Homo sapiens: one gene and its partners. The protein of the gene in region 7 interacts with the protein of the main gene of each other region in a pairwise test. Each region holds a gene or a part of one and is shown on either strand. Other genes may lie near its edges.

Region 1 (4,850 bases), on a different chromosome or scaffold from region 7:
CTCAAGCTTCTGCCATTGCGTTCTTAGAATCTTCCTCCACAGCTGACATACTCTATCTTTCAGAATCCAGCTCCAGATGTTCCATGACCAGGAGGCTTTTGGGGACCTCTTGTCCCTCCCCTTGGTGTTCACACCATGCCAACATATTCTCTTGTGAAACAACTCTCCCAATGCTGGTCTGTCAAGAAGCCCTGCTGGCCCATCTGATCCTCATAGGTTTGAAACTGGTTTTTGAGCATTCCCTCAAAATATTCCTTTTAATATTCCCTGTTTATACTGATTACTGGTATTCAGAATAGGGCATTCAAACAAGAAGCAAATTAGTATTGATCTTAATAGGATTTAATTTAGCTTCAAAACCAAAGAGCTAGATTCTAAATTCTTACTCTAAAATTAAGCTTACGAGATTTTCTAAGTATTAGGTGTGGCTGCCTTATCAAGATGATTTATTCACCTATTTCACTTCTATGTCATTTCACAGATATTCATTAAATCACAAGATTCTTGCCCCAGTTTACAAAACGGGGGAGGAAAACGGGTAAGAAACCTAAAAGTCCAGTGTCAGCAGGTGCTAAATGCATCGTAGCAGCTCAGAGGAAAACTGGATCACAGAGGTGGCAGGCAACGGACTTCAATTCAAGGAGGTGCCACAGAGGCATCTACTTGATTTTTAAGAGACAGAAGTGGGGAGGGGTTTGCCACACTGTCCAACTCTGGAGTGGGAGAGTGGGAGGTGGAGGTAAGGCTGAGAGGTAGGACGTGGCCCTATTTAAAGAGGGTTGCTCTGCTTTCATAGTTCAACAGTGAGAAGCCACGGTTTTTTTTTTGTTTTGAGACAGGGTCTGGCTCTGTCGCCCACGCTGGAGTGAAGTGGTGTGATCTCAGCTCACTGCAACCTCCGCCTCCTGGGCTCATGCGATTCTCCCACCTCAGCCTCCCAAGTAGCTGGAATTACAGGCGTGCGCCACCATGCCCGGCTAATTTTTGTATTTTAGGAGAGACCAGGTTTCATTGGTCTTGAACTCCTGACCTCAAATGATCCTCCCACTTTGGCCTCCGAAAGTGCTGGGATTACAGGCATGAGCCACCGTGCCCAGCCCCACGAACTTCTGAACACAAGATGGATGAGAGCCGCCAACCAGCAACTGTTATATAAGACAAACTAAAGCAAAGGGATCTGATAACAGAACCACAAAACTGTTCAGGCCAGAAGTCAAGAGCTTGAAAGTGCTAACTATAAGGCAGTGTGGTCAGGTCAAGGTGGGGTTGACTATAACAAGCTGCAAAAGATTTAACTGCTTTGTGTGTCAGTTTGAACTTCACCACCACCATAACATCTGACACCGCGGGAGGTTAGTTTCAGGATTTAAAAAAAATACAAGAAATAAGAGCACAGGATGTACATAGTTTTCCTTTTTGCCACATAAATACCACGTGGTAAACATTAAAAAGAGTAAATACAGGCTGAAATACAGTCAGCCAAACCTCGGGATTTCAGTGTTTTATTTACTACTGAATGATGGACTGTGGCTTAACTCCAGTGTCCCTAATTTAAAAATACTATTTGACTCCTTCTCCCCAATAAAAATTATCAACAAGTTGTACTTACATCTTTTATGTCACACATCTGGGTCCAGGTGAAGACTTGGTGTGGGGGTGGATAAACAGTGTAATGCTTTCTTTCTTCTGCAACAAATCCCATTAGCTGATTTAAAGATAAACTAGACTTAAAATCAGATTCTCATTGGAAACCATAAGAATTCAATAAGAAAGCTTCTAGTGCAAGTTATTTGGAACATCATTAGTTCTTTGTCATGTTATGTCCAAATTCTTTTAAAAAACAACAAACAAAAACAGTGCCTGCCCCCCCACCTAAGTGGTTCAATCAGGTCAATTCCTTGCCTCTTTCTCTGGGCTGGGTCCTGACAGTGCCACTCCTCTCGGCTTTTTAAAGCTCAAGCCAGGTTTCATTCAGGATGGTTGGTGATTTTACTACGCCAGCCTTTCCTGGACAATAGACTATGTGACTTAAATGAATCCATGATATCATCTCGCGGGTCGTTAACAACTTTAACCAATATAAAGCTGCAGAGTGAAACATCATGGCTTTCTTTTACCCCCTTTGTGAGTAAAGGAGGTTGAAGGGGGTACAACCTAAGCCTACGGAAACATGAACTTGGCCGGCTACACTAACAAGACAAAAGGGCCGGCAGCCTCCACATTTACCCTTATGGAAGGTGCATTTCCATATTTACCTTGATAAAATACGGTTTCCCGAACTCCCCGCTGAGGTGCTTCTTCCAGCTCTCTCCAAAGCCCACGGGCACGTTGCGGGCCGCGAGTCTGAGCAGGGCCGCGGCCTTGTTCCTCTGGATCCGGTCCAACTGCTCGGCACTCAGCGGCGAGGAGGGCGGCGTCCCAGGCTCCTCCTGCCCAGCCGGGGCCTTCTTGGCTGGGATGGCCTGCAAGTGGTCCCCGCAGAGGCGGCTCAAGAGCTGCAGCGGCCCCTTCCCAGGCGTCCGCAGCTTCCGGCCCAACCCCCACGGCCCAAGGCAGAAGACGCCCATTTGTGGAACAGGTCCCAGCAAAAGCGGACAGTAAGAGCCCAGGGCTGGGCCCGGTCCGGGAATTGGGAATTAGGTTCTAAACTGGAGCGGGGAGACGGGCTGGGAGGCGCCCTATGGCTTCCCGAGGAGCGTCGCGGTGACTGGGAACCCTGCACAGAGGTGCCCCGCCCCCGCCAGACCCGCCCCACCGCGTCCCCACGTGGTCTTTTCGCGGCAAAAAACCTCCCTCTGGGTCCCGCCCCCTCTCCCCTCTGATTGGACAGCGCACCGAGCCAGGAGGGCCTGCGGCGCGCGGATTGGCGCCATGGGCCCCGAGACGCGTTCCCATTGGCTGGCCCTTTAGCATGGCGGCCCATGGGGGACAGCGGCGGCTATTTTGAACACGTGGAGGCTATTTGGAAAGCGGAGCCCGGGTTTACCGAGTCAGAGGCGCGATCCTGCACGCCCTCCGTCAGGCGGGGCCCACCGCCTTCCTCCCCCTTCACCCCCTAGCCCCGGCCCAAGCCGCGCCTCACCGCCGCATCTCCGCTTTCCTCAGGCACCCCAGCCACGCCGGTCCCCTGGACGGCCGGCTCGGGGCTGGGGGCGTGTCGCTTCCTGGCGGGGCTGGGGGAGAAAAAGGAGTAGAGCGTCTTCTGGCCGATCATCCTGGAGCTGAGGAGGCAGCGAACGCGCGCCACCCGGGAACCGGCGAGGCTAGCCCTGGCTGTGGCTGTGGCGGTCAGCAATTGGCGCCAAGCGGCCCGCGCATGCTCCGAGCGGGGGGCTTTGCTGGGGGCGGGGGGCGGTGGAAGGCCCAGTGCGCATGTGCGGGAGGGGCTGGAGTGCAACGCCCCTGGGAGGAGGTGGGGCGTGCAACGGTGCCCGGGGGCCTATTCTTTCATTCGCTTTGTGCCTTCAGCCCACCTCTGCTCTTTGGACAGGCTCTTAAGGCTCAGCTGCAAGAAGAGAAGACTGGTCAGGCGCGGTGGCCCACGCCTGTAATCCTAGCGCTTTGGGAGGCCCAGGCTGGAGGATCGCTTGAGGCCAGAGGGTCTGAGCTGTAGTGAGCTTTGATCGCGCCAATGCACTCCAGGCCTGGGCGACAGAGCGAGACCCTGTCTCTCGGTGGGGTCGGGGGGAGGGGGCTGGGAAGAAAAGTTCCTGCCCCTTAGGGGTGTTGTGGGAGTGCAATGAACAATATAATAATATTGTCCGGGCTTGATGGCTCACGTCTGTAATCCCCGCACTGTAATCCGAGGCATCTCAAAAACAAACAAACAAACAAATACTATTATATTTTGTGTGTGTATTTTGTTTTTGAGACAGAGTCTTGCTCTGTCGCCCAGGCTGGAATGCAGTGGTGTGATCTCAGCCCACTGCAACCTCCGCCTCCCGGATTCAAGCGATTCTCGTGCCTCAGCTAGGATTATAGGCGCGCGCCACCACGCCTGGCTAATTTTTCTATTTTTAGTAGAAATGGGGTTTCACCATGTTTGCCCAAGTGTGTTTTGTATTTTTTTAGTAGAGATGGGGGATCTCACCATGTTGGCCAGTCTGGTCTCGAACTCCTGACCTCAGGCGATCTGCCCACCTTGGCCTCCCAAAGTGCTGGGATTACAGGCATGAGCCACCACACCCAGCCAATATTATTTGTTGAACTGTTATATACATTTTCTCACGCAATTTTCATGGCCTATTTTATGACGATAAACTAAGGCTTAGTGCAGTCAAACATTTTGCCTAATGTATCAGGCTTGTGGGAGACTTTCGGGTCATAGAGGTTAAACACCAACGATTTGTCTTCCAAATGACACCACTGTACCGAACCTCCTCCCACCACTACTAATACACTTAGGATTCTCTTTCCCTCCCTCACATCCAAACCATCCATATCTGCTTTTGGTTCTTTCTCCAAAGCAAACCTCAAATTCAACTGCTGCTCTTGCATCTCCTAGCTACAGAAGACCAGCTGGGAAGCTGGTGTTCTCTTTTCTAGAGAGAGATTTTTACATCATGACAATACCTGGGGCCTGGCCCAGCTCGGTGGCTCACGCCTGTAATCCCAACACTTTGGGAGGCCAAGGAGGGGCGTATCGCTTGAGCACAGGAGTTCGAGACCAGCCTGGCAAACATGGTGAAACCCCGTCTCTACTAAAAATACAAAAATTAGCCAGGCGTGGTGGCATGCATTTGCAATCCCAGCTACTCAGGAGGCTGAGGCAGGAGAATCACTTGAACCCGGGAGGCGGAGGTTGCAGTGAGCTGAGATTGTGCCACTGCACTCCAGCCTGGGTGACAGAG
Region 2 (4,865 bases), on a different chromosome or scaffold from region 7:
GTGAGTGGGGAAGGGAGGGTGATTGTTTAATGGGTGCAGAGGTTGTGCTGGGGATGATGAAAACGTTCTGGGTGGAGATAGTCACGGTGGTTGCCTCACACTTAGAAATGGTTACAGTGATCAGTGTTACGTGTATTTTACCCAGGATTAAAAACACACACACGCACCTGAAATAGATGAGACAGAAAAAAAAAAGAAGAAAGCAAAAAGAAAGCCAGGCGAGGTCCCATCTGCTGCCCCTCCTCTGGGGGGACAAGGAACCCACGACCACCTCCCACCTTGCCTTCTTCAGAGGGCCCAGGACTGGGCTCAGCCCCGCTTCACCCTCCTTTGATTCCCCACATTCAACAGGAAGACTAAGTCCACAGCCGTCACTCACCGGACAGATGGTGCTGACAGTTCAGCACCGCTCAAACTCTGTAAGGAGACGTGACAACAGAATCTGTCATGGGATCCTGGAATAGAAAAGGGCAGTGAGGAGAAAACTCTGCAAATCTGACTCAAGCGCGGACTTTGGTTAATGTCAACAATGGTTATGTGATCGTGGAATTGGCTCATTAATTGTAACAAATAGGCCGGGCGCGGTGGCTCACGCCTGTAATCCCAGCACTTTGGGAGGCCGAGGCGGGCGGATCATGAGGTCAAGAGATCGAGACCATCCTGGCCAACATGGTGAAACCCCGTTTCTACTAAAACTACAAAAATTAGCCAAGCATGGTGGCGCACACCTGTAGTCCCAGCTACTCGGGAAGCTGAGGCAGGAGAATCGCTTGAACCCGGGAGGGGGAGGTCAGTGAGCCGAGATCGCGCCACTGCACTCCAGCCTGGCAACAGAGCGAGACTCCGTCTCAAAAAATAAAAATAAAAATAAAAATAAAAGAAAATAAATAAAGTAACAAATATACGACATCAGTTTAAGATCTTAATAACAGGGGAAACTGGGGGAACTCTATCTATTTTTTCAATTTTTCTAAATCTAAAACTGCTCTTTTTTAAATTTTCGAGACGGAGTCTCCCTCTTGTTGCCCAGGCTGGAGCAGTGGTGCGATCTCGGCTCACTGCAACCTCCACCTCCCGGGTTCAAGCAGTTCTCCTGTCTCAGCCTCCTGAGTAGGATTACAGACGCCCGCCACCACATCCGGCTAATTTTTGTATTTTTAGTAGAGACGAAGTTTCACCATGTTGGCCAGGCTGGTCTCGAACTCCTGACCTCAGGTGATTCGCCCGCCTAGCCTCTCAAAGTGCTGGGATTATAGGAGTGAGCCACCCCGCCCGGCCTAAAACTGCTTTTTTTTTAAAAAGCCTATTAAAAAAGAAAAAGTTGCGGAAGCCGGCTGCCTTTGGAAGCCCTTGGAGTATGCTGTTCAGGTGGTCTCTGCGCACAGGCCCTACCCAGGCCTCAGCTTGGCCTCCTGGACTTCCCAGCCTCCCCTCCACCTTTGCAATTCACCAGACTGGGGGCCAAAGCGGCTTCAAACGACCCTGGAGGGTGGTGCTTTCAAGGTCTTGGGACCACGGACTTGTCTGAAAATCCGAAGGCGTTGGATCTTCTCTTCCCCAGAAAAATGCACCCGCTTTCAGAGGTTCGTGTCCCACGCTTTTCTTTCTATCCCAACCTTGTAAGAAGCCGCCGCCGTGAGCGGAGCAGCACCTTCCTCCGCGGGTCGCGGGAGTCACCTACGGGAAGGGACTCTCCGTCTGGCACAGGCCCTGTCTGGCCTGGGGCGCGCATGCTCCGCCGCCGAATCTTCCAGAAAGCCGTGGACCCGAGGCCCCGGCAGACGCAGGCGGCCCAGCGCCTTGCTTTTGGCCCCTCGCCTCGCCCTGGAGCCCTCTCTCGCAAGGTAAGGGACTGCCGGGAACGCAGATCGCAAGCCGTCGGGGCTCTGTAGAACTCAGAGGCGCTCGGCGGAAAGCTCGCCAGGCGACCCAGACCCGAACCCGCGGGCTCCCCAAGACAACAGCGCCGGGCGGCCGGATGCACGTGCGTCCCGGGAAGGCGGGTTCAGCTGGCATCGCCTGGCCGGTTCCGTTCGCTCCTTAAACCACAAGACCCCCTTGGGGTCACGACGTTCCCGGGGCACCCCTGCACTCGCGCGCCAGCACTCCCGGAGGGGCCTGGGGAAGGCCACGCGCACGGAGAGCGGGAAACTCCTCTAGGTTTCCAGGTGGGAGATCCAGACCCTACTGAGACCCGGAAACCGCCGGCCACTCCGCCTCCGGAAGCGACACTTTGGGACAAAGCTGGGGACAAGTAAGCCCAGAAGATCCTCGGGAAGCCGAGAATTTCGCGCTCCGCTCTCCCACCCACGCTCCGCCTCCCGCTTGCATCCTACAGCTCAGCTGCGGTCTCGCCTGGGGCTCAGGGAAGTGAGGTCCCAGGAAAACCTCCATCCCCCGAACGCAACCTGGGCAGAGCCCCGCGTCCCTCCCCCAGCGGGCACCCACCTCGCGTGCCGCCCGCGCAACGACAGCGTTTACCGCCACCCCACACGGTCCGCCAAAAAGGGCGATTTGCAAACAGCCATTTCCCATCCACAATGCAGCGAACTCAATGCTGGGCACCGAAACGTGCATCTCCCCCGGATTCCCACCCCGCGTCCCTGCTCCACGCTCCAGGACTCGCCGCCAGTGGGGTCCACTCCGCCGGCGCGGGGGCTGGGGTGGGAGCCCGGGGCCACGTGCACGGCCAGCCCCCATCTTCTGGGCGGTCAAGACCGCAGGCGTGGGCGCCGGTGGGGCGGGGGTCTTGGGAGACCCTGTCTCGCCGCCTTTCGGTGCAGATGATGCAACTCTGGGCGGAGGCGCGGAGAGGGAAACCGGGACCCAGTTGAGATCCTCTGTCCAGAGAGGGGAGCGAGTCTCGGTGGGGCCGGATCTCACCTGGACGGATACATGGAAAAGAGGGGCGAGCGGCTGCCCCGACTGCGGCGAGGCGGAGACGGCGACCCCGGGGTGGCGGCCTCGCGGGGACCCACGGCGAGGGGAGCAGGCGGGCGGTGATTGGCGGAGAGGCGGGGGCGGAGGCCGGCGCCGGCCAATGTCTCGTGGCAGAGCACCCGCCCGCCCAGCCCCTCCTCCACCCCACCCAGCCCGGGCCCCTCCCCCCCACCCCTTCCCCACCCCGCCGCAGCCTGGGACCCTCCGGCCTGCCCGACCCCCGCCCTCCCCGGGACCCCGGCATGCCCCCACCCCAGTCCGCCCGCCCCATTCCCACGCCCTGTTGATTCAACCGCAGACCCGGGTCGCCGCCCCCTCCCCCGCCTTCCTCTTCGCCTGAGCCCGCCCGCCCCGGGTTCCAGCCACCCCCACCCGCGGACCCCGGTGGTGTCTTCTACCTGGTGTTCCGATGCTGTTTTACTTGGTTAACTTCTTGCCCTTCGGGAATTTAAGGAACCTTTACTGATGAGCTTGAAACGTGCGTCCTGGTGGGTGGGGGGCCCTGCGCGTCCTCGAGGACCGACCCCGAGGGCGTGTGTCGCGGGCCCGGGAGGGGGCGCCGCGCCGGGGCGGGACTCGATGGCCGCGCTCTGTGGCCGCCGGACGCCGTGCGCAGCGCCCCGCGTGACCGCGCCCAGAGCCGGGTCCGAACCCCGAGCCGAGGCGCAGAACAGTCGCCTTGCGCGGCTCCGGTGCGGCCCACGGCCAGGGGCTGCCGGGCGCTCTCGGGGACGGGGCCGACTCCGCGCAGGGTGGTAGCAGGGGCGCCCCGCGGGGCTCCTTCGCCAGGTCCCGGAGGCCGCGGGCGGGGCCGTTTCCCAAACATCGTGCTCTGGACTTTCAGAGGCTGAACCTGATCCCCCCGCCCTATGGCTAAATGGGGGATCCCAGGCCCCCGAGTCTCCCCCCGGACCTGCAGCGAAAGACACGGACGGTGCCCATCAGCTCTGGGCAGAGGAACGTGCTGCGCCTCCGCAGCGTCCCCGGCTCAGGTCAGAGCGATGTTCCGCAGCCTCCTCCGGCCCGCGCAGCTCCGCCGCGGTCTCTGCCACGTGGGGCTCACAGTAGGGGAGGGAGTGAGACGTGAATTAGAATTAAATGTCCACTGGCAGGAACTGACACGAAGAACAATAAAGCCGGCGATGTGGGGAGGGGACAGGGATGGAGTTACATCATGAAGGCTCTGGAAGGTGGCATTGGAGGCCGGGATCGCGCCACTGTCCTCCAGCCTGTGCGACTGAGCGAGACTGTCTCCAGAAAAAAAAAAAAAAAAAAAAAAATCCTGTCCAGTCTTTATAAGAAGAGAGACGTGGACACAGACACGCGGAGAGAAAAAGGCCATGTGGAGATGGCGGCAGAGATGAGATGTGCTGCCACCAGACGAGAAATGGCAGGGATGGCTGGCGGCCTCCACAGGGCTGGGAAAGGTGGCCAGGGCCTCCCTCAGAGCCTTCAGCCAGCCTGCGGGAGAGAAAGATGATAAACGGTGTTGTTTTTGTTGTTGTTGTTTGAGACAGAGTCTGTGTCACACAGGCTGGAGTGCAATGGTGAGATCTTGGCTCACTGCAGCCTCAGCCTCCCGGGTTCAAGCGATTCTCCTGCCTCAGCCACCCGAGTAGCTGGGATTACAGGCACGCACCACCATGCCAGGCTAATTTTTGTATTTTTAGTAGAGACGGGGTTTCATCATGTTGACCAAGCTGGTCTCGAACCCCTAACATCAGGTGATCCATCCGCCTCGGCCTCCCAAAAGTGCTAGGCTCACAGGAGTGAGCCACCGCGCCCAGCCCAATGTGTGTTGTTTTAAACCACTCAAGTTTGCAGTAATTTGTTACACAGCCCAAATACTTTTTAATTTTTTAGAAATTTTAACGTAATTTTAGATTAGAAAAGTGGCAAGAACCATACAGAATGTCATATTCCCT
Region 3 (4,188 bases), on a different chromosome or scaffold from region 7:
CAGAATTGGTGTGCATTTTCCACTGTCAGTACCCATTATGATGCTTAAAATTTTCTTGACAAATGTCCTATTTGAATTTTTTAATAATCAAACACACACATTATAGATATAATATGTTTCATGATTCCACTCATGAGTGTACCTGGGTTATAATTATGATCCTGGTTCATGTAAGATACCATAAAAGGGCTTCAAAGGTAGATATTTAAACAGATTTATAAAATACAACATCAATGTTTTTCTTAATATGGCTACTCTCCTTTCTTTCCTGTAACATACCCATAATACGTTTATGCTGTTGAATAGTTATACCTTTTACCCCAAAGTGAACTTTATTACATAGACATTTTTATTACATACAGTTTAATGCTTTTCCTCATAAACATCCACTGAGTACTTACTGTGTCAAAAACTTTCAAAATTTTAATATATAAGATGAACACAGCTATGATCCCGACTTCCAAAGATTTCAGAGTACTCTCACAGATTCATTAATAAATTAGGACCTTCAGCTTGTTTTCTCTTTATTGATCAATACCATGAATCCTTCATCTGCACATACCTGACTTCTTTTCTTCATTGTTGTCTCTCTCACCATTATCACGGTGCACAAATTCATCCCCGTCACTTTCTCCATCTGATTTGTCGGTGTCACTGTCATCAGTACTGTCATCATGCTTATCTTGATCCATGTCCTCAGGATAGCCATCATCTTCACTGGTGCTAGAAACATCATCATCATGACCTCGCTGGGCTGAAAAGTGGGAAGGGAACATGGAGAAGTAGTATGATTGGACCCTCCACTACATGGTACCCAGAAATACAGAAAATTATGCTATTCAACTCAGACTGTAACAACTTAATTCTTACCAAAAAAAAAAAAAAAAAATTCTTGTATATATAGCTACTCATACAGTCTAACAAAATTTTCCTCTGCCAATAATTTTAAACACTTCTTTTTGGTAATTTAAGATTTTTTTAAAAAGAGTTCTAATTTGAAAACCCATTTCCTCCTTTAGCAACAATCATGTTTGTATACACATACACAGTCAGTGAATGTATACAATGACGCTCTAGTCTGATGACAATAAAGCTAAAAGGGAACCAGATATACAAGTCTTAAAGGATTAGCAGCAAGAGTGACATCTCCAGGAAAAGCCTAATTTAAAACACGATAAACATTTCTATACTTATGTATGATGCTTTTACTTGAGAAGATCCTATGATTTATCCAACTGTATGTATATTAGTTATGTACATGATACCCTCTCATTTACTTTCTAAGTTCTGAGGGTGGTGAACAATATGTTAAACAGGGCCAACATAAAAAATGATAGTTATAAAAGCAAAAGAACAGTCACTTCTCACCAAGTTCAGGACTATATAACATGTCTTCATCTCGCCTACGAGGGGGAAGATCTAGGGCAAAACCCACTTTACGGCCATACATCTGCACGACTTGAGGAGGAGGTGGACCAGGGGGAGGGCCAGGAGGTTTTCTGCCAGGGGGCAAACGTGGAACACCATGTCCAAGAAGAGGAAGGATAGAAACTGCCCGAGTTGGAGGTCTGTTAAAAAAAAAAACAAAAACAAAAAAACCCCCACAGTAATCACTTAACAGTAATGAGATATTTATTTTCTCTTCTAAACAATTTTCAAGGGATTTCTTATTTTACATTTAATCAAATGTCACACTGTTTACATCCATATTGTCTTTTATTTCCCTCTGCATTAATTTTGGCACTGGACAGTCAACTTGTGCCTTTACTAAATGCTCTCTGATTGTGACACTGCTTCCTTACCCATAGGCTGAGGTTTTCTTTAGGATAGAGGGTGGCTGGGCACCAGGAAGTGGAATGTCCTGGATCAAAATGTTGGAAGGAGCATGTGGCATATCTGGCAAAGGAATACTCTCCACTTCCACATGCTGAGCATTCTGAAACAGAGAACCATTCAGTAGTATGATAAAAAAGTCATCTACTAACTAAACACTAAAAATGACAAGTCAGCTGTTTCGTAACTTGGACATGCTTTCCAACTAACATAAATATCACCAAAAACCCCCAGAAAAATAACCTTACGTCAATACTTCCACATTGTCAAAGAACTGAAAGAAATCTTTACTTCTAAAAACGTCAGAACCCAGCTGTTTTTTTTCTCCTCTTATCAGGTAATTCTTTTTGGATGATTCGAAACAGCTGTTGTCTAGAGAAAGCCAACTGTTACAAGTATCTAGCACCAGAACTACCCTATTTAACATGTGATAGAAAAATACATGTCAGGCTGGGCGTGGTAGCTCACACCTGTAATCCGAGCATTTTGGGAGGCTGACGCAGGTCGATCACAAGCTCAGGAGTTTGAGACCAGCCTGGCCAATATGGTGAAACTCCATCTCTAATAAAACTACAAAAATTAGCCAGTTGTGGTGGCGTGTGCCTGTAGTCCCAGCTACTCAGGAGGCTGAGGGAGGAGAATTGCTTGAACCTGGGAGGCAGAGGTTGCAGTGAGCCAAGATGGTGCCACTGCACTCCAGCTTGGGCAACAGAGTGAGACTCGGTCTCAAAAACAAAAAATAAACAAAAAAAAGAAAAATAATATATGTCAACTAACAAATAGTATATATCCAGTGGTGGAGGTTGGGCTCATTAGCTTGCCTATGTTGAATTTCTGTTGTGTATTAGCTTAGTTTGACTAAGCAAGGTAACCTGTGCCTTCATCTGTAAAATGGGAGACATATTACCTCCTTTACAGAAATTATAGCATTTGATTTTTTCCCATCTTTATTTTGAGGTAAAATTTACGAAATTTACAAATTCAGTAAGTTTTGACAAATGCATATACCTCATACTCCTTCCCAATCCATCTCTAATATCATCCCCCAAGGCAACCACGGCTACATTTTTTTTTCCTGCACAGATTATCTGTGACTATTCTAGAATTTCATAAAAATGAAATCATAACAATGAGATAAACTTAGCATGTTTTTGAGATTTACTCACAATTTTTCTTTTTTTATTCCATGCTGTTTTGAGTATTAGATTATTCCTTTTATTGCTGAATAGTATTCTATTGTATAAATATGCTACAGTTTAATTATCCATTATCCTATTAGTGAACACTTAGGCTGATCCAAGTTTTTGAATTAATTTCTTCTGTTTAAATAAAGAGGATTAGATTTGCAGGTTCACACAGTAGGTATATGTTTAGTTTTAGAAGAAACTGCTATAAGGAAGAGGTTCAACATGACATTCTCCCATTAACTTTTTAAATCTAAGTATAGGCTGAGCATCCCTAATCTGAATATCTAAAATGCTCCAAAATCCTAAACTTTTTGACTCCCATATGATGCCATGGTGGAAAAATCCACACCTGACCTAATGTGATGGGTCGTAGTTTTGTTTCATGCACAAAATTTATAAAATTATCTTCAGGCTATGTGTATATGAAACATAAATTTCATGCTTAGACTAGGGTTCCATCCCCAAAATATATGCAAATATACACAAAAACAAAACAAAATATAAAAAAAACCCAACAACCCTAAATCCAAAACACTTCTGGTCCCAAGCACTTTGCATAAGGGATACTCAATCTGTATAATATTTTAGTTTATCTCTCAAAAAAAAAACCTTGATTACCTTGACAGCATCAAAATATTGGCTAAGTTGAGCCCTCTTCTGTTCATATTCTACTTCTAGCTTTCTCAATTCTTTGTAAATATCTGGATTCTCTTTTTCATAGAGTCGTAGAATACGTTCAAAGGTTTCACGCAGCTTTTTACGCTTGTCTTTCAGTACTTTCTCATTTAATTGTGGCTGTTGCACTGGGTTAAACTCTAAGAGAAAAAGTAGATTATGGAATTAAATATAAGAGGCCACTTCAATTAGGTATCAATAGGTTACATGATAAAAACCTCCATATATGCTAAAAAATTTTTAAGAGATCTAGACACCAGACATACTCTTTTCAATTTTATTCGAAGAACTACAATATTTATTAAAATCCCCACCCTTTTTAGATGGCCACTAATTTTACCTTTCTCAGAAATGCCACCTAATTGACTTTCATCTTCATTGTAATAAAAATCAATTTTCACTGCTCTGTGCTGAAAACCTCGTGAAGATTCTGTCAGATTTGTGTTTACCTACTACGTTAGTCCTGTCAAATTTTGAGATCTTAAGCATTTTA
Region 4 (4,188 bases), on a different chromosome or scaffold from region 7:
CTACCTTATTTATTTATTTATTTTTTTGAGACAGGGTCTTGCTCTGTCACCCAGGCTGGAGTGCAGTGGCATGATCACAGCTCGCTGCAGCCTCGACCTCCCAAGCTCAAGTGATCTGCCCACCTTAGCCTCCTGAGTAGCTGGGACTACAGACATGTGCCACCATGCCTGAAAAATTTAAAAAAAAATTTTTTTTTTTTTTGAGACAGAGTCTTACTCTGTCGCCCAGGCTGGAGTGATCTCGGCTCACTGCAGCCTCTGCCTCCTGGGTTCCAGCAATTCTCCTGCCCCAGCCGCCTCTTGGGTAGCTGGGATTACAGGCACACACCACCATGCCCAGCTAATTTTTGTAATTTTAGTGGAGACAGGGTTTTGCCATGTTGGCCAGGCTGGTAAGACGTGAGCCACCGCGCCTGGCCAAAAAAATTTGTTTTAGACATGGGGGTCTCACTATGTTGCCCAGGCTGGTCTTGAACTCCTGGACTTAAACAATCCTCCCACCTCAGCCTCCCAAAGTGTTGGGACTGCAGGCATGAGCCACTAAGCACGGCCTATTGTGTCTTTCAAAGATTTTAATACACTTTCACATCTCTTGCTAGATAAAATAGGGTCAGTTATTAGTACATAATTCCAAAAAAGGAAATGACAGAAAAAGAAGTAATATTCCCAAGGTGTAGGTCAAGAAGACCAAAAGGAATAAATGCATACCGCTCTATACCTGGACTTGTATACTATCATGATTTACATAGCTCAAGGCAGAGGAAATTGATCATATTGAACCAATATATCAGCAATGGGTTTTTCAAAAAACCAAGCTTTATTATTAATTTTTTTTGGCACCTTAATTAACAATTCATAGAATGGGTCACTTCAGGCCACTCAAGAGTACCAGTGAACACTCCCCCACAAACACACCCTGCCACAAGACATTTAGCACAGAGGAACAGATCCATGGCCACTGCCTCTGCAGTATCAAAGAGAATTAGTCTTTCCACAAAACAAATTTTAACAGCCAATCTCTGGATTTCTGTAGTGGCTTTAGTCAGGCATATTTATCATCATATTAGCAGTGTTCAGTTCCTGCCCAACATCTTTATTTAATCCCAATTCAATGCTTATGGATGCTCAGCTCATGTTTAATGTTGCAAGCCCCATCTTAGCCCATCTTAATTCAAACAGAAAAGAAACAAAACAAAACAAAAACAAAAAAGGTACCTGCCTGGTTCATGGATCCCTAGCCATCCAGGGACCAAATTCCAAATTAGGATGACAAAGAGTTTCCCTTAGTTCAAAATGACATGTGTTTCCAGTCCTAATCCCAGATGTTAATCTAGCCATAGTGTCACCTGAGCCTTAGTCCATGTGTATATCACATACTTCCTCTAGCTTTAGAATGACTTCACAAGCTGAGAAAGGCAAAACAACCATAACCCAGACTTGCATGTAAGTATCTGGCCTCAACTATTAAATAATACTTAAAAGGGAACCTTATGAGCCTTAGCTCTTTCTGGAAATTCATCTGAACAGGGGTGAGGGTGGGTAGGTGGGTGCAAATGGTGGGCTCCCTCCAGCTCAGAGTGCATTTGTTAAGGTATTGCCAACTTTCTGAAAGACACTAGAGACAAGGGAGGAGACCAAGTGCTAAAGACCTTTTATCACTTTTGCAAAAAACAAGAAAGGCCAACTCCATTTATTTTATCACGTGGATCTCTTAAGGAACTACCAAATCTACTAAGGGACCTCCAAGAATTTTGTGACCCATGAAAATCTCCTCTCCTAGTCACAAGGCATAAATACATAAAAATACATAATGGCAAATTTCTGAATCTGACATGACTTCTCCCAAATACAGCTGTCTTCAGTTCCTTTATTATTGCCTCTTTGCAGCAGCGGTGATGGTGGGTGATGGAGTGACATCAGGAGCGCCAGAAGGAGGAAGTCAGAAAGCCCTTGGGGACAGGAATGTCCTTGTGTTGCAAACATTTCTGGTCAGGGAAAGATGAAGAAAACAGAATGAGTTTCTGATAACAGTGTTCCCAACACTTAATGGTTAAAAGAAGCTTTGAGGAACACCATATTTCAGCCCTATGGAACAGTGAACAAAAAGGAAAAAGCCAGTAAGACTGATGGTTCTGTATAAGATGTCCACTTCTGCATGATCTGCTCCAGACAACAAATGAAATGCTCTTATTATTCCTGTCCCACTCTTGTCTCCCTACAGGCTAACCTCATCTTTCACAATCACTATTTTCACAATCGAGCTTTGAGAAGCTGAAAAGTCAGCAGGCTATCTTGGCAAACCCACTATAGTGTTCTAAATTCTTTGTCAAAATTAACCTTTTACAATCTCTTGGCACTTGGAAGTAGGGGAAGAGTCCAACTGAAAGTGCAGTTTGATCTCATGGAGAAAAGTGATGACACTTACCAATTCCCCAGACCTGAGACTAAGAAAATAACCTTGGCCAACATGCAAAAAAAATATATATTAATGAGAGGAGATACACTAAATATATTTTACTCATCTCAGCATAGCTTTCTCACAGGCAGTATAGAGAATGATACATATAAAGAAGAGGAAATGGCAGCCCTTACTCCAAAGGTTAAGAGGGAATTAGGAACAAAAAGAAGGGTTTGGAAGAACTAAGGAAGAGAGTGCAATCAGAGCATCGGAAGGTCCAAGACTTGTCAGACATAGGTGCATTCCAGCCCAACAACAGTGTGGGGCATGTTGGTCTAAGGGCATCTTACCTCCAAGAACTGCTTGAGGCGTATGAAGGAGCCCATCTGTCCTGAGCTTGTGATAGCTTCAATTCTACAGGGAGAGAAAGACACATGAATCACACCTATGATATACACCTATCTTTTGGAAACGGTGTCTCACTCTGTCACCTAGGCTGGAGTGCAGCGCGGTGGTGCGATCATAGCTCACCGAGGCCTTGAACTCTTGGGCTCAAGCGATCCTCCTGTCTCAGCTTCCCTAGTAGCTGGGACTATAGATGCATGCCATCATGCCTGGCTAATTTTTTTTTTGTAGAGATGGGGTCTTGCTATATTGCCCAGGCTGGTTTTGAACACCTGGGCTCAAGTGATCCTCCTCCTGTGGCCTCCCAAAGAGCTGCAATTATAGGCATAATTATAGGCATAAGCCACTGTGCTCAGCCCCTAATTTGTGTTTTTGTTTGGGCAATGATATTTAAGACAGACTCTCATTAAGGTTCAAAAGCATTTATTCAAATATCAACGAGAGGGACTGGAGTAGGAAAGATGTCATACTTAGTACAGGTGTTTTTAACTTGAATCAAAACCAGCAGGTAATAGCACCCTTGGGTATCTGAGGCCTGGTTATGAGTTACTTAATCCCCTGCTGTCTGCTCAACAAGCCTGATACCTGGGAAAGTAGTCCTCTTTGATGAGAATTAGCATCTTCCAGAACTGAACCTGGTATTGCTTCATGAGGGCATTCCCACACACCTAGAGGGAAAGACAGGCACTGTCAGAGCAGAAAATGAAAATTCACACTCACAGGACAGATTCATAAAGCACAATCAGCCCTTCATCTTTCACACCTATCAAAAATTTCAACCACAATGCCACTGAACTTGCTAACAAGGGAATAAATGGAAACACCCAACTTTCTTCTAAAGCATTTCTCTTTATATGGCAATATCTCCATTTAACCAATCAGGTCTTAATGAACTACTCTTCTTTTCCTCTAATGAATGGACGCCTTCCTAAAGGTATGGTATACCTCCCAAACTTAGTAAGGAGAGTATACAGAATACCACTTGTGTTCTCAAATGATACAGGATCATTGTTCATGTATGGTGACTTCAGGAGCTTTTTATTTTTTTTTGAAATAGGGTCTCACTCTGTCGCCCAGGCTAGAGGACACTGGCATGATCACAGCTCACTGTAGCCTCAACCTCCCTGGGCTCAGGTGATCCTCCAACCTCAGCCTCCTCAGTAACTGGGACCACAGGCACACACCACTAATTTTTGTATTTTTTTGGTAGATATAGGGTTTCACCATATTGCCCTGGCTGGTCTTGAACTCCAGAGCTCAAGTGATCCGCCTGCCTTGGCCTCCCAAAGGCTGTCAGCCACTGCACCTGGCTGACGTCAGGAGCTATTAAGGTAACTAGGAACTATTGGCACTATAGATCAAATGGTTCCAGATTTGTTATGGCA
Region 5 (3,761 bases), on a different chromosome or scaffold from region 7:
AATAGCAAGTGTTGATAAGGACCTGGAGAAACTGGAACCCTCGGGCACTGTTGGTGAGAATGGAAATCGGTGTGACCAGTATGGAACACAGCTTGATGGTTCCTCAAAAAATAAACATGGACGCCGGGCGCAGTGGCTCACGCCTGTCATCCCAGCACTTTGGGAGGCTGAGGCAGGTGGATCACCTGAGGTCAGGAGTTCAAGACCAGCCTGGCCAACATGGTAAAACCCTGTCTCTACAAAAATACAAAAATTAGCCAGGCACAGTGGTGCACACTTGTAATCCTGGCTACTCGGGAGGCTGAGGCAGGAGAATCGCTTGAACCCAGGAGGTGGAGGTTGCAGTGAGCCGAGATTGTGCCATTGTACTCCAGCCTGGCAACAGAGCAAGACTCCATCTCAAAAAAAAAAAAAAAAAAAAATTAAACATGGAGTTACCACATTAACCAGCAATGCCACTCCTGGGTACACACCCAAGAAAAGTGAAAAGAGGTGTCCAGACATACTCGGCCATGAAGGTGCACAGCAGGTTACTCACAAGGGCTGAAAAGCAGAAACAACCAGGTGTCCATCACCGATAAATGAGGAACCAAAATGTGGTCTATCCACACAATGGCTTATTATTCGGCCACAAAAAGAAACCAAGTACACGTGCTCTGACATGCCTGAAAATACCATGCAAAGTGAAATAAGTTAGACACGAGGCCACAATTGTGTGATTCCATTTATATGAAATGTCCAGAACAGGGAAAACCTATTTTAGACAACAGAGACACAAAGTCGATCAGCAGTTGCCAGGGGAGGAGGAAGACGGGAGGGGAAATGATTGCTTCACGGGGTGATGACAGAATGTTCCAGAACGTGACAGAGGTGGTGCCTACACAACTTTCTGGATGTACTAAATGCCGCTGATTGTTCACTTTCAAGTGATTGATTTTTAGGTTATTTGAATTTCATCTCAATTAAAAAACCCAAACACGCAAACTGCTCCCGCCAGCTCAGCCCCGAGCAGACGGCGCAGCCCGTGGAGGATGCTGAGCCACCCAGGCTTCTCCCCGCCCCTTCCTGGACTCTTCTCTCTTTTGCCTTTAATCCACTCTGCGCAGTCATTGCCTGTGTTCATCCTACCTGGCCGACTTCTCTCTCAATATTTCCTTGGTGAAACATCCTAAGAGGAAGTTACATTAGAGAAAATCACATATTTCATCTCATAGGCCGTAAACAGGGCCATTTAGGAAGCCATGTGTTAACGAGGGGAGACGGATGCTCTGTGCCGTGTGCAGGGATAACGGTGCCAGGCCAGGCAGTTACCAATCACGCGTGTGTTTAGGGCTCAGGAAAGCGAAGGAGAAGTGGGCAAGGGTGGCGGGCCCGCTCCGCACCGCCCAGCGCTCCGGACTTCACTTCTGGTCCCGCTCCTGGGCGGCCACGAAGTTCAGCAAGTCAATGGCGGTGACCACCCCGAACACCATCTGCCGCTGACTGGACTTCCCGGTGCTGTGGTCTGAGGGGAGAACGAGGCAGTGGGTTTGCAGGTGCCGTGGGAGGCTGGGTGGGCTGCTGCGGGGCAGGAGGCTCCTGAGGGCCTGGGGCACCTGTGCACCATGGGGGCCCAGGGTGGCTGGAGCCCAGCGGCGAAGGCTGTGTTCCTTTTTTTTTTTCTGAGACAGGGCCTCACTCTGTCCCCTAGGCTGGAGTGCAGTGGTGCAGTCTTGGCTCACTGCAACCTCCACCTCCTGGGTTCAAGTGATTCTCGTGCCTCAGACTCCCGAGTATCTGGGACTTCAGGTGCACATCACCACACCCAGCTAATTTTTGTATTTTTAGTAGAGATGGGGTTTTGCCATGTTGGCCAGGCTGGCCTTGAACTCCTGACCTCAAGTGATCCACTTGCCTCGGCTCCCAAAGTGCTGGGATTACAGGCGTGAGCCACTGTGCCTGGCCAAGCCAGTGTTCTTCTGACATGAGCCCCATGAGCCCCCAGGCCAGGTTCTACCCACCACGTGAGTCCCCTGGGCCCCAGGCCAGGCTCCACCCACCGCAGGTCAGGACACACCCTTCCCTGGCCCACCGGCTGAGCTCCTGAGGCACTCATGACTTCAGAGCCGGTGTGGGCATGAAATTCAAACCCGCTTACAGGGCCGGGCACAGTGGCTCACACCTGTGATCCCAGCGCTGTGGGAGGCCAAGGTGGGAGGATCATTTAAGCCCGGAAGTCTGGGACCAGCCTGGGCAACATATTGAGACCCTGTCTCTACAGAATATTTTTAAAAATAAATTAGTCGAGCATGGTGGCACACGCTTGTGGTCCCAGCTACTTGGGAGACTGAGGCAGAAGGATCAGTTGAGCACAGCAGGTCGAGGCTGCAGCGAGCTATGATGGCACTACTGCACTCCAGTCGGCAACAGAGCAAGACCCTGTCTCTAAAAACAGACAAAAACCCCTTGCCACCATGGGCAGCACACAGCTTCCATCTCTGGCCTGATTCTGTCTTCACCCCTCCTGCTTTCTCCTGGCAAGCGTAGACCCGGTGTTAATGCTGGCCGAGGCTCCCATGCCACATACCCAGACAGGGCTGTTGTGATGGTTAATTTTAATACAGATTAACGGGGCCGTGGGAGCCCAGGCATTGGTCACACGTCGTTCTGGGCATGTGTGAGGGGATTCCGGATTAGCACAAGAGTCAAGAGGCAGATAACGTGTGCTACTGTGGAGGGCCTCACCCAAGCAGTTGAAGGCCTGAATAGAACCAAAGGTGGAATTTCCTGCCTTGGGGCTTGAACTGCTGGCTCTCCAGTCTCCGGCCTGCCGCCTCACCCTGCAGATCTCAGGGTTTGTCAGCCTCCGTGATCTCATGATCCAGTTCCTTAACACAGATCTCGTTCCCTCTCTCTCCCCGCTCCCCACACATCCTCTTGGTCCTGCGTCTCCACAGGACCCTACACCAGCTGTCATGAGGCACAGAGGGGTGAGCAAGGTGCGGGTGAGGAAGAGCCCTCGGAGCCCGTCCCAACTCCGCCACGGCTGTCACTCCTCTCTTTGTAGGCAGAGGTCCCTTGGGGTGGCCCACTTAGAGCCCCAGGAAAAGATAGGGAACACAGATGAGATCAGCTCCTTGCATTTTGGGGAAACGGAGGCACAGCAACTGTTGGAGAAGGGAGCCCTGGGAGCCCTGAGTGCCGCAGGCTTCTGTGGCCCTGGCAGCTCGGCCCAGAGTCAATGGACTAGGGCCAGCCAGGGGACTTTCCGACAAGGGCCAGCTGGTGGTATTTTAGGTCTTGGGGGCCGTGCCGTCTCTGTTATGAGCACGCAGCCCTGACGTGCTTGAAAGCAGCCACAGACGGTGGTGACAAGCGTGGACATGCTCCAGGAAGACTTGATTTGGGGACCCTGACATTGGAATTTGCATCTTTTTTTTTTTCTGAGATGTTCAAACACAAGTAAATGTGAGATTAAGAGGGGGATCCCTCCTACCCAAGCTTGGGGGTGGGTCCAGGACCCTGGAAGGCCTCCATTTGCCATGGGGAGGCTGTGAATCTGAGCCTGAGAGCCATTCTGAGGGGTGGGTGATACCTACCTGCAGGCCCCCCCACCACGCCTGCCCAGGCCTGGTCCTGCGCTGCAGAGCCAAGGACGGGAGATGGGGTTAGACTTGGGGCCCTCACGGACCAGCCTCAGCCACCGAGCGCTCACCCCCTGCACACAGGCCTGGTGGGTGGGCAGGCTCCAGGCTCCAGGGCCCCTCCCAACTCTTCCTGTG
Region 6 (4,188 bases), on a different chromosome or scaffold from region 7:
GATGTCAAGCCTCTTGAACCTGCCTTGGGCCCATTCACGCTCTCCAGAGTCCCATGGGTCCGCACACCTGGGTAGGCCAAGCCACCTTGTCCTCGGATGTTTGCTTCTTTCATGGGGGCAGCCTTCATGCAACCAAAGTATGAAATAACCATAGTAAGGAAAAGGATGGTCATCACTCTTCTCACCTGGTGGAACTGTAGGGAGAAAGCAGAAACAAGACAGAAAACTGGTTAGGGCTTTCTTTCACCGGGATGCCATGTGGCCCATCTGATTGTAATTCCAGGCCATTCTGCAGGGTCAAGGTTTTTTTATGTCTTGGTGATAAACTCCAGCTGCACCAGACACAAATCAGTGTCAGTAGTGTGCTGTATGTGGTTTAATATAAACCAGAGACATGCAGTGTTTCCCCCAAGATCTAGCATATAAACCTGAGATTAGATGGCTTCTAAGCAAGTGCAAAAATTGTGGCTTCAAGTTCTCCTTCTTCCCACTTTAGCAGCTTTGTAAGTTTAATTTTTAATGATCTCTGCTCATGCTGTCACGAGAAACACAAAATCATAAATGTTACTAAGCAACAACTGCAAGTGTAATTAATAGTAATTTTTTTCAAGTTAGCAACATGGTCCTTTGCAGGAATGTGTGACAGGAACAGCAGTGGCCTGAGGGGTCTGATGGGCCTTTCTAGCTATGTGATGTCTAGGCATGAATAGCACAATAAAACAGCAGTTGGGGAACTATAAGGAGCCTTTAAATTGACTTTTTTTTTCCTCTTCCCACAGAGATACTCTATTATAGCAAAGAAGAAAGATAATTTCATTGAGCCATCCTGTTTTACAGGTAAGGAAACCAAAGGCCATAGAAGACTTGCCTTATGTCATGAAGAAAGTTTATGTTAGAACTCAGGGCTCCCAATTCCACTGTTCTTTATTCTACACCTGGGTGGTCACAACTGAAAATGTTTTGCTTATTTCTAAACAGAAATCATTTTTTGACATGTTCATTTTAATGATGTGTCTATGCCTGGGGCTAATGTCATGAAAACAATGTGTCTGGTAAGGAGAAAACTGAAAAAGTCAGCATTAAAAAGACATTTAAGTCCATTTCAAATGCCTCCCATATGCAGACTCCACTTTATCTCCTCCAGTTCTCTAAAACCCTTCACTCCTTGGCTTTTTCTGGCTAATACACACATCTAGCTAAGAAAGCTCAACTTTTCTTTTTACTAGAGATGTTCTCTCTGTGTGTGTGTGTGTGTGTGCGCGCGCGCGTGTGCGCGCGCTCTGAGTTTATCCTACTTTTAAAAAGCTGAGTGGTGTTTTACACATTTTGGAATAGGCAGCTAGTGCTTCTTTTTCTGCTTTTGAAGTTTCCTGGGAAGTCCCTTAAAAGCATACCACAAAATTAATCTCTTCCTGTTTGCCAGAGGGTTGCTCTACTCTAAATTTGGCTCTACATCTACAAGCATGCTCTAGGAAGCCAATTAAAATGGATGAACAAGCAAAATGAAAACATACCTATGGACCAACCCAAGGTTACCGTCAGGTGGTGAAGGACTTCAGAATCACTTACCTGAAGCATTGTGTTTCTCAGCAGCAAAGAGTAGCATCCCCAGCCCTGACCCTAATTTTATTCCTACTTCTCAGTTCTGAGGCATGGACTTACAAAAAGACACATACATGCAATGGCCATCATGATATCCAAATAAGTAGGAAAAGGAACTGTGTTTCTGCCCATGAAGTTTTACTGAATTCAAAGGCAACCTACCTCCAGTCAATAGGTCAGAATGCAGAAATGGCTGAAAACTCTGGTATTGAAAAGCAAATGTTCTCCACTTTTGTAAGAAATAACATTTTCAACCACTAAGAGACTTTATTACCATCCCTAAACACACAAAAAAATTTCTTTTAGATTTACTCTCACTTTGCACGAATAGCAAACATGCTTAGAACTGCTTAGATTGCACAATGTTCTCAGATTAGGAAGGGAAAATTGGTTTGAATAAAATACAGATGTCTATTCCGCTAACAACTAAATCTTTGTGAATGTTCTGAGTCCTGTACCATCAAAGAAATAGATCGTCCATGGGGGTTTCTATTTCTGGTAGATTGTACTTACACACTGAATGAAAAAGCTTTCTCCTAATATTCCCAGTCCAAATAAAAACAACCCAAGGGGCACCTCTTATTTAGGTCAATAAAAGTTTGCAAATGTGGAATACTTTAGCCATCTACATCACACTGGTAGAGACTTTCTGTGATCAGCTATTTTTTAATACCATATTTAATCAAATCTAAGATACCATCATTGTGAAACTCGACATTTTATATATCACTAAGAAAGCAAAAATGCAGCCTGGGTGACCAGAGTGAAACTCCATCTCAAAAAAAAAAAAAAAAGAATTAATGAACTATAGTTTAATACATATTTACTAAGTGCCCACACTAACTACTTAAAAATGGTCCAAAATACTGAGGCATCTTAAGCTGTTGGAAAATTGTTTTGTTTTCACCACTACAGTAATGAGTCTTTGAATGATACCATTTTCTATACTTGGCTTCTAGTTTACTCTGCCTTTCACTGATCTTATCTTTTTATTAATAACTTTATGAGAAAAATAATTAATGCTTTATATATTGTTCTCTCAGTTCCATGAGCAAATATTTCAGAGGGAAAATTGGCATCTGAGTAAATATTACTTGGCTTTCATTCTGAAGCCCAAACATGGGTATTCCTCAAGCTGAGCATCTGCATAGAATTAGGAATTAACACAATGGTGACAAAGTCCAACCCCACATTGCAAGCCCTGCTCTCTGAGTGGCACTTCTGCAATTCTAACTAACTGTCTACTCACTTGTAAGGCCTTGAAGTTAAGTGGGTGCAACACCAAACTCAATACTTTTTGTTGGAACAGTGGTATCTCCTACCTTTTCTAACAATGGTTCCCTGATATTTTGGGCAACCCAGGCATAGGATAGAAATCCTGGAATCAAGTTTGACAATATATTTCCTGCATAGCCTTCCAATCCAGTCAGTAAAGATGTCCTGTTAATTTTTCCTTTAAAATATTTGTCCTGGCCATCCCTTTTTATCCATCCCACTGCCACCATCTTGGCTCAGCCCTCACCACCTCATTTTGTGACCACAACGTCCCGATGCTGTATCAGACACTCTTTCTGCTCCATTCAACTCTGATGACCACTTCCTGGGTAACCACCCTAATACTATTCTCTTACACAAAAACTGGCAATGGCATTTTTGTTCTATCTGCTCAAATCTAATGTCTTCTCTCTGATACTCAACTCTCTCCAACATCTGCCCTCACCCTTCTTAGCTAACTTTCTCAAACTACTCAATGCTTCATCACTTCTGCTCCGATCAGGACAGAGTCCTTGGAGTGCCGTACACATTACTGCCTCCTGACTTGTTCCATTCCTCTGACAAACTCCTCTCTCCCTCTCACTTGCTGCCAAAATCTTGCTTATCCTTCATGATCCAGTTCAAGCATCAAATCATGCATGCCCCTTTCTCTAATTACTCCAGCATACACTGCCTTCCTTCCCTAAAATTCCACATTACATCTTACGTAGTACTTGATTCCCTTCTCACTTGTTTTGTTTTGTTTTTTTCCCAAGACAGAGTCTTGCTCTGTCGCCCAGGCTGGAGTGCAATGGTGCAATCTCGGCTCACTGCAATCTCCACCTCCTGGGTTCAAGCAATTCTCCTGCCTCAGCAGGAGGTAGCTGGGATTACAGGCGCCCACCACCATGCCCGGCTAATTTTTGTATTTTTAGTAGAGACAGGGTTTCACCATGTTGGCCGAGCTGGCCTACTCACTTGTTAATTGTTAACCGTATTTGCTCATTCTAGTCAGTCTTCAGCTGAAAGGTAAGTTCTTTGAGGGAATGGATCATGTCTGAGCCCCCATAATGCTTAACAGAGAAAAATGTAATAGCAGTACTCAGTAAAAACTTACTGATAGGTTTATTAAACTAAGAGAAAAGACAGTTTGGATATAATTTTCGTAAGAAGCCTTTTCATTTGGAAAGATCAGTGAACCCATTGAAATTCTCAGGTAAATATAGGCTGTGCTAACCCCAAATTATAAACTCTAAGGCAGTGGTCCCAACCTTTTTGGCAGCAGGAACCAGTTTTGTGGAAGACAATTTTTCCACGGTCTGGGAGTAGCAG
Region 7 (4,188 bases):
TTCAAGCGATTCTCCTGCCTCAGCCTCCCGAGTAGCTGGGATTACAGGCACCCAACGCCACACCCGGCTAATTATTGGGGTTTCGCCACGTTGGCCAGGCTGGTCTCGAACTTCTGATTGCAGGGGATCTACCTACCTCAGCTTCCCAAAGTGCTGAGATAATAGGCATGAGCCACTGCTCCCAGCCAGGACTAGGTCTTGAATATAAATTCGTTAGCAAACAAATTACAAAAATTGAAGCCATGGATGTGGGTGAGGTCACCCAGGGAGAATGTGTGGAGTAGAAAGAGCAGAAAGGGCAGAGAGCAAGCCCAGGAACAGAGGAGGAGTCAGGCCCAGAATGGGAGAGGAGCCTGCGGAGTACTAGACCAGCTTCAGAGTTGAGCAACATAAAGAACAAAAAATGCAGTTGGATTTAGCACTGAAGATATCTGAACCTGCCCAAAGCAGCATCAGGAGAACTAGAGGGGGAGAAGTCTAGAAATCTGTTGCTCCCCAGCCAGGGTAAAAACACATATCAAAGCCTGTAGAACATACAACCATGAAGGACTCTTGCGGTTTTTCATGGGCACAGGCCATGGAATCTTAGAGATCATGTAGTCAACATGTTCATTTTACTCGTGAGGAAAAATGAAGTTAAATGAAGAGGTTAAGCAACTTGTCCAAGATGGCAAAGTCACCAGGTTTCACACCTCTCAGCCCAGGTGTGTGGTGTGGTTAAGAGCATGGGGTTGGGGCCGGGCACGGGGGCTCACGCCTGTAATCCCAGCACTTTGGGAAGCCAAGGCAGGTGGATCACCTGAGGTCAGGAGTTCAAGACCAGCCTGGCCAACACGGCGAAACCTTGTCTCTACTAAAAATACAAAAATTAGCCCGGTGTGGTGGCACAGGCCTGTAATCCCAGCTACTTGGGAGCCTGAGGCAGGCGAATCGCTTGAGCCTGGGAGGCAGAGGTTGCAGTGAGCTGAGATTGTGCCACTGCATTCCATCCTGGGCGAGAGAGTGAGGCTCTGTCTCAAAACAAAAGAAAACAAAACAAAAGCATGAGGTTGGGGTAGGGTCCGGGTTTGACCCTTTCCAGCTGTGTGGGCTGGGCCAAGTTACCTGGTCTCTCTGTGACTCCTTTTCTTCATCTTTAAATGGAGATAGTAGTTCCTGCCTCAGAGGGTTGCTGTGAGGATTCAGTGAGTTAATACATGTCAAATATTCAGAACAGTGTCCTACACATAGGAAAAGCTATGTGTTTGCTGCTGTTGTTAATCCATATGTATGTGTGTATGTGTATATATACACATATGACATACATGCTTTAGGGAAGGGATGATGACAATATATTGTGTGTATGTAAGGAAACTTTGAATATTTTAGAAAGAGATTTGGGTGATTGTCGGTTCTGAATCAAAAATTGTTAGAAAAGTTGGGAAATTTACTTACATGGTATGATTGAAAACAGCATTTTTAGTAAGAAATGCAGCACCTTCATTCTTGAGAACGGAAAACATGAAAGCATTCTGACGTTAACCCTGTAAAAGGGTTTCTTTTAGTCAGATAACCAGAATTTTAACCTATTTACAATGGAAATCCCTCGAGTTTGACTTCAGAATGTCATTGTGACTTTTCTAAAGGTAGAATGAACTATAAAGTAAGAAAAAACTATGGGTTATGACTTTCACACATTTGGCTCCTATGAAAAAAGAGTGATTTGTGTTATTTAGAGGACTATAATAATTTTTTTAGTGTTTCTAGTTGAGCAAATCTAATTTTTAGCTACTAAAACACATGAGAAGCCTGAATGGTATTATCCAAATGGACTTGGGTGACATGCAATATAGACAACTTAGGAATAAGTGACACTGTGGACTTGATTAGAACGCAGTAATCCTGGAAGAATATAAATTGAATTGGATTTATGGTCTAATAAAAACGTGGGAGGAAAAGATAATGCTTACTGACTCATGAAACTTTAACAATGTTTGTAAGACTCCGAGTTGTTGTAATATTTGGTTGAGAGCGCTTTCCCATTTGTCTCAGCCTGCTTCCAGAACAGCCTGCTGTGCACCTCCGTCTGGAAGTGAAGCCTGACTTGGGTCTCCTTCTTGGGTATACTTAGGAAGCAGAGATCATCACATACTCTGCCCTTGTAAACCCATGACCTCGAGCAGCACTTGGTTGGTTTAGGCAAATATGTATTGAGTACCTATTAACTGTAAGAGTTTGGGGGAGAAAAAAGTACCATGGGAAAGTCCTAGCTCATTGCTTATTTGCACTCAGAAAGCTTTTTTAGAGGACTACTTGTTTCTGGCCTTGTATTCTCCTTTCTGTGATACTGCAAAAAAGTAGAGAGCATACCACAGCTACCTACTCCTCCCTGAATACACCATAGAAATAATAGCACCTGCCATTTTATTGAACTCGGAGGCATGTGTTAGGTGCTTACATACAGTCATGTACTTAATCATAGCAACTCTAGGAGGCATGTATTATTATACCCATTAGTCAAATGGGGAGACTGAAGCTCAGAGAGGCAAATGGCTCATGGTCACACAGCTAATAACTAGTGAAGCCAGGTCTGTGTGACTGCTAAACTCTTTCCTGCTTTTGCTCCAGAGCTGTGGTTCCTCATTCCCTGCCTCCTTGCCTTTGCTTTGCAGTTACTTCTGTGTCCTGTGTTGCAGGATGCAGAGGCACCTTTACCCACCGTGGAAGTCTCACCCTTTCTGATGACTCCCCTCAAAACCTACTGCCTCTTGAGAAGCCCTCCCATCTCTCTTACCTCTGGGCTCCCAGAGCACCTGATTACCACCTCATCATCATCCTCATCATAGCCTGATTCGTAAGGCTGAGGGAACCAGCTGGGTAGGACAGTGGGGCAGGCACTGGCCTTTCCCACCGACTTGTGAGCTCTTTGGAAGTCAGGGACTCTATTTTATGATTGATTTGTCAACATAACACCCAGCACAATTCTAGGAGGTACTACCATTATTATCCCATTTAAAAGATGGAAAAACTGAGTCACAGAGGCTAAGTGATTTAGTCAGCGTCACAGAGTAAGTGACAGAGCTGGGATCTGAACACAGCAGTCTGGCTCCAACATCTATGTTCTTCACACTAAATTTGCGCCATCTCTTTAATGAGATTGTAAACTGTGAGGGTGGAGGTGGTGCCCAGCAGCTCCCAGCCTAGTATCTCACAGACTCTGCACAGTAAACATCAGCCCTTTTGTTCTCCTGTCCACCCCAGCAGAGTGACAAACAGAATATATTGAACCAGGTCTTATCGCATAATAAGAAAAGAGCACAAATATGCTGAAGATCTCATAGAATGCATATCCCCAGGCCTCATTTGGATTCAGTGGGTATGGGCCAGGCAGGGCTGAACGCTTCTCATCTTTTCTGTATCTGGGAACAACAGTGAGAAGGGAAGAGTCAGCAGGCAGCTCTGGAAGACAAGGAAGGAAGCAAACATAGGGAGTCCCAACTAGAGTAGTGGGAGCAGGCGGAGAAGTGGTAGAAACCATCAGTCAGCAAGAGTCAGAGAGTGCCGAAGCTTGAGAGGGGCCCGGGATCATAAATCCGCACAGAAAGACCTCTTAACTTGTAATTTAAAGGTTTCTAAGTACCTGTGCCTTTTGAATATGCTGGTGGGATTTTATCTGATGAAGTCAAACACTTTCATTTTCTTCAGAGCTTCCATCTTTGAGGTATCCAAAAATAGTAGGCTTTTCATGGAGTTGTATAAGGATTCCATCTGCTTTATATTGAAAAGTAGGGCTTTAATGGAAAATTAAAAATGAGCCAGATCTCCTTTCCCACAACAAAGCCCAGGGCACTTTTCCCAATCCTTTCTTCTTTTAATCCCCAGAAAGTTACTGAATCTGTATTTCTGTGAAATCCTGCCCAATTTAAATTCTACTGAAAAGGCAAATAAACACCAACAACTTCATTTCCACACAAATGTCATGTCTATTTAGAAGCAATAACAATTTCAAATGTTGTCACTTGTGAAATTTGATTTTTGTTTTAATTTTATTTTTTTGTTATTCTAGAGATTGTGTGATGTATTGCCTGTACCTAGGCACATACATGCACATAAGGATATTTTAAGAAGCGCTGATTTCTGTTAATGGTTTCTCTAGTTGCTGTCTGAGTTTGAAGGGTATCACCTTTTATTGTCTAGTTTGGCTTCACT

What was found.
Region 1: the proteins of FYN (region 7) and UNG interact in binary tests that used the Homo sapiens proteins (3 or more experiments, as listed by UniProt).
Region 2: the proteins of FYN (region 7) and cystathionine beta-synthase interact in binary tests that used the Homo sapiens proteins (3 or more experiments, as listed by UniProt).
Region 3: the proteins of FYN (region 7) and WBP11 interact in binary tests that used the Homo sapiens proteins (3 or more experiments, as listed by UniProt).
Region 4: the proteins of FYN (region 7) and GLE1 interact in binary tests that used the Homo sapiens proteins (3 or more experiments, as listed by UniProt).
Region 5: the proteins of FYN (region 7) and CBS interact in binary tests that used the Homo sapiens proteins (3 or more experiments, as listed by UniProt).
Region 6: the proteins of FYN (region 7) and BDNF interact in binary tests that used the Homo sapiens proteins (3 or more experiments, as listed by UniProt).

The regions. Positions count from the first base shown.
Region 1 is NC_000012.12:109,096,044-109,100,893, reverse strand, and holds the start of UNG (uracil-DNA glycosylase), read right to left. Parts: upstream 3,298-4,850; 5' UTR 3,215-3,297; coding exon 3,083-3,214; intron 2,723-3,082; exon of another isoform or gene 2,568-2,722; coding exon of another isoform or gene 2,463-2,567; coding exon 2,256-2,462; intron 1,706-2,255; coding exon 1,610-1,705; intron 1-1,609. UniProt on the Homo sapiens protein: Uracil-DNA glycosylase that hydrolyzes the N-glycosidic bond between uracil and deoxyribose in single- and double-stranded DNA (ssDNA and dsDNA) to release a free uracil residue and form an abasic (apurinic/apyrimidinic; AP) site.
Region 2 is NC_000021.9:6,464,565-6,469,429, forward strand, and holds the start of cystathionine beta-synthase, read right to left. Parts: upstream 2,950-4,865; 5' UTR 2,884-2,949; exon of another isoform or gene 1,617-2,883; intron 456-1,616; 5' UTR 380-455; intron 1-379. UniProt on the Homo sapiens protein: Hydro-lyase catalyzing the first step of the transsulfuration pathway, where the hydroxyl group of L-serine is displaced by L-homocysteine in a beta-replacement reaction to form L-cystathionine, the precursor of L-cysteine.
Region 3 is NC_000012.12:14,793,169-14,797,356, forward strand, and holds part of WBP11 (WW domain-binding protein 11), read right to left. Parts: intron 3,836-4,188; coding exon 3,639-3,835; intron 1,937-3,638; coding exon 1,803-1,936; intron 1,569-1,802; coding exon 1,369-1,568; intron 755-1,368; coding exon 563-754; intron 1-562. UniProt on the Homo sapiens protein: Activates pre-mRNA splicing. May inhibit PP1 phosphatase activity.
Region 4 is NC_000009.12:128,538,899-128,543,086, reverse strand, and holds the end of GLE1 (mRNA export factor GLE1), read right to left. Parts: intron 3,472-4,188; coding exon 3,389-3,471; coding exon of another isoform or gene 3,373-3,388; exon of another isoform or gene 3,210-3,372; intron 2,813-3,209; coding exon 2,749-2,812; intron 1,986-2,748; coding exon 1,917-1,985; 3' UTR 799-1,916; downstream 1-798. UniProt on the Homo sapiens protein: Required for the export of mRNAs containing poly(A) tails from the nucleus into the cytoplasm. May be involved in the terminal step of the mRNA transport through the nuclear pore complex (NPC).
Region 5 is NC_000021.9:43,052,480-43,056,240, forward strand, and holds the end of CBS (cystathionine beta-synthase), read right to left. Parts: intron 3,621-3,761; coding exon of another isoform or gene 3,579-3,620; intron 1,505-3,578; coding exon 1,401-1,504; 3' UTR 712-1,400; downstream 1-711. UniProt on the Homo sapiens protein: Hydro-lyase catalyzing the first step of the transsulfuration pathway, where the hydroxyl group of L-serine is displaced by L-homocysteine in a beta-replacement reaction to form L-cystathionine, the precursor of L-cysteine.
Region 6 is NC_000011.10:27,658,392-27,662,579, forward strand, and holds part of BDNF (neurotrophic factor BDNF precursor form isoform a preproprotein), read right to left. Parts: intron 1,882-4,188; exon of another isoform or gene 1,765-1,881; intron 1,268-1,764; exon of another isoform or gene 195-1,267; coding exon of another isoform or gene 174-194; coding exon 1-173. UniProt on the Homo sapiens protein: Important signaling molecule that activates signaling cascades downstream of NTRK2. During development, promotes the survival and differentiation of selected neuronal populations of the peripheral and central nervous systems.
Region 7 is NC_000006.12:111,863,189-111,867,376, reverse strand, and holds part of FYN (tyrosine-protein kinase Fyn), read left to right. Parts: intron 1-4,188. UniProt on the Homo sapiens protein: Non-receptor tyrosine-protein kinase that plays a role in many biological processes including regulation of cell growth and survival, cell adhesion, integrin-mediated signaling, cytoskeletal remodeling, cell motility, immune response and axon guidance.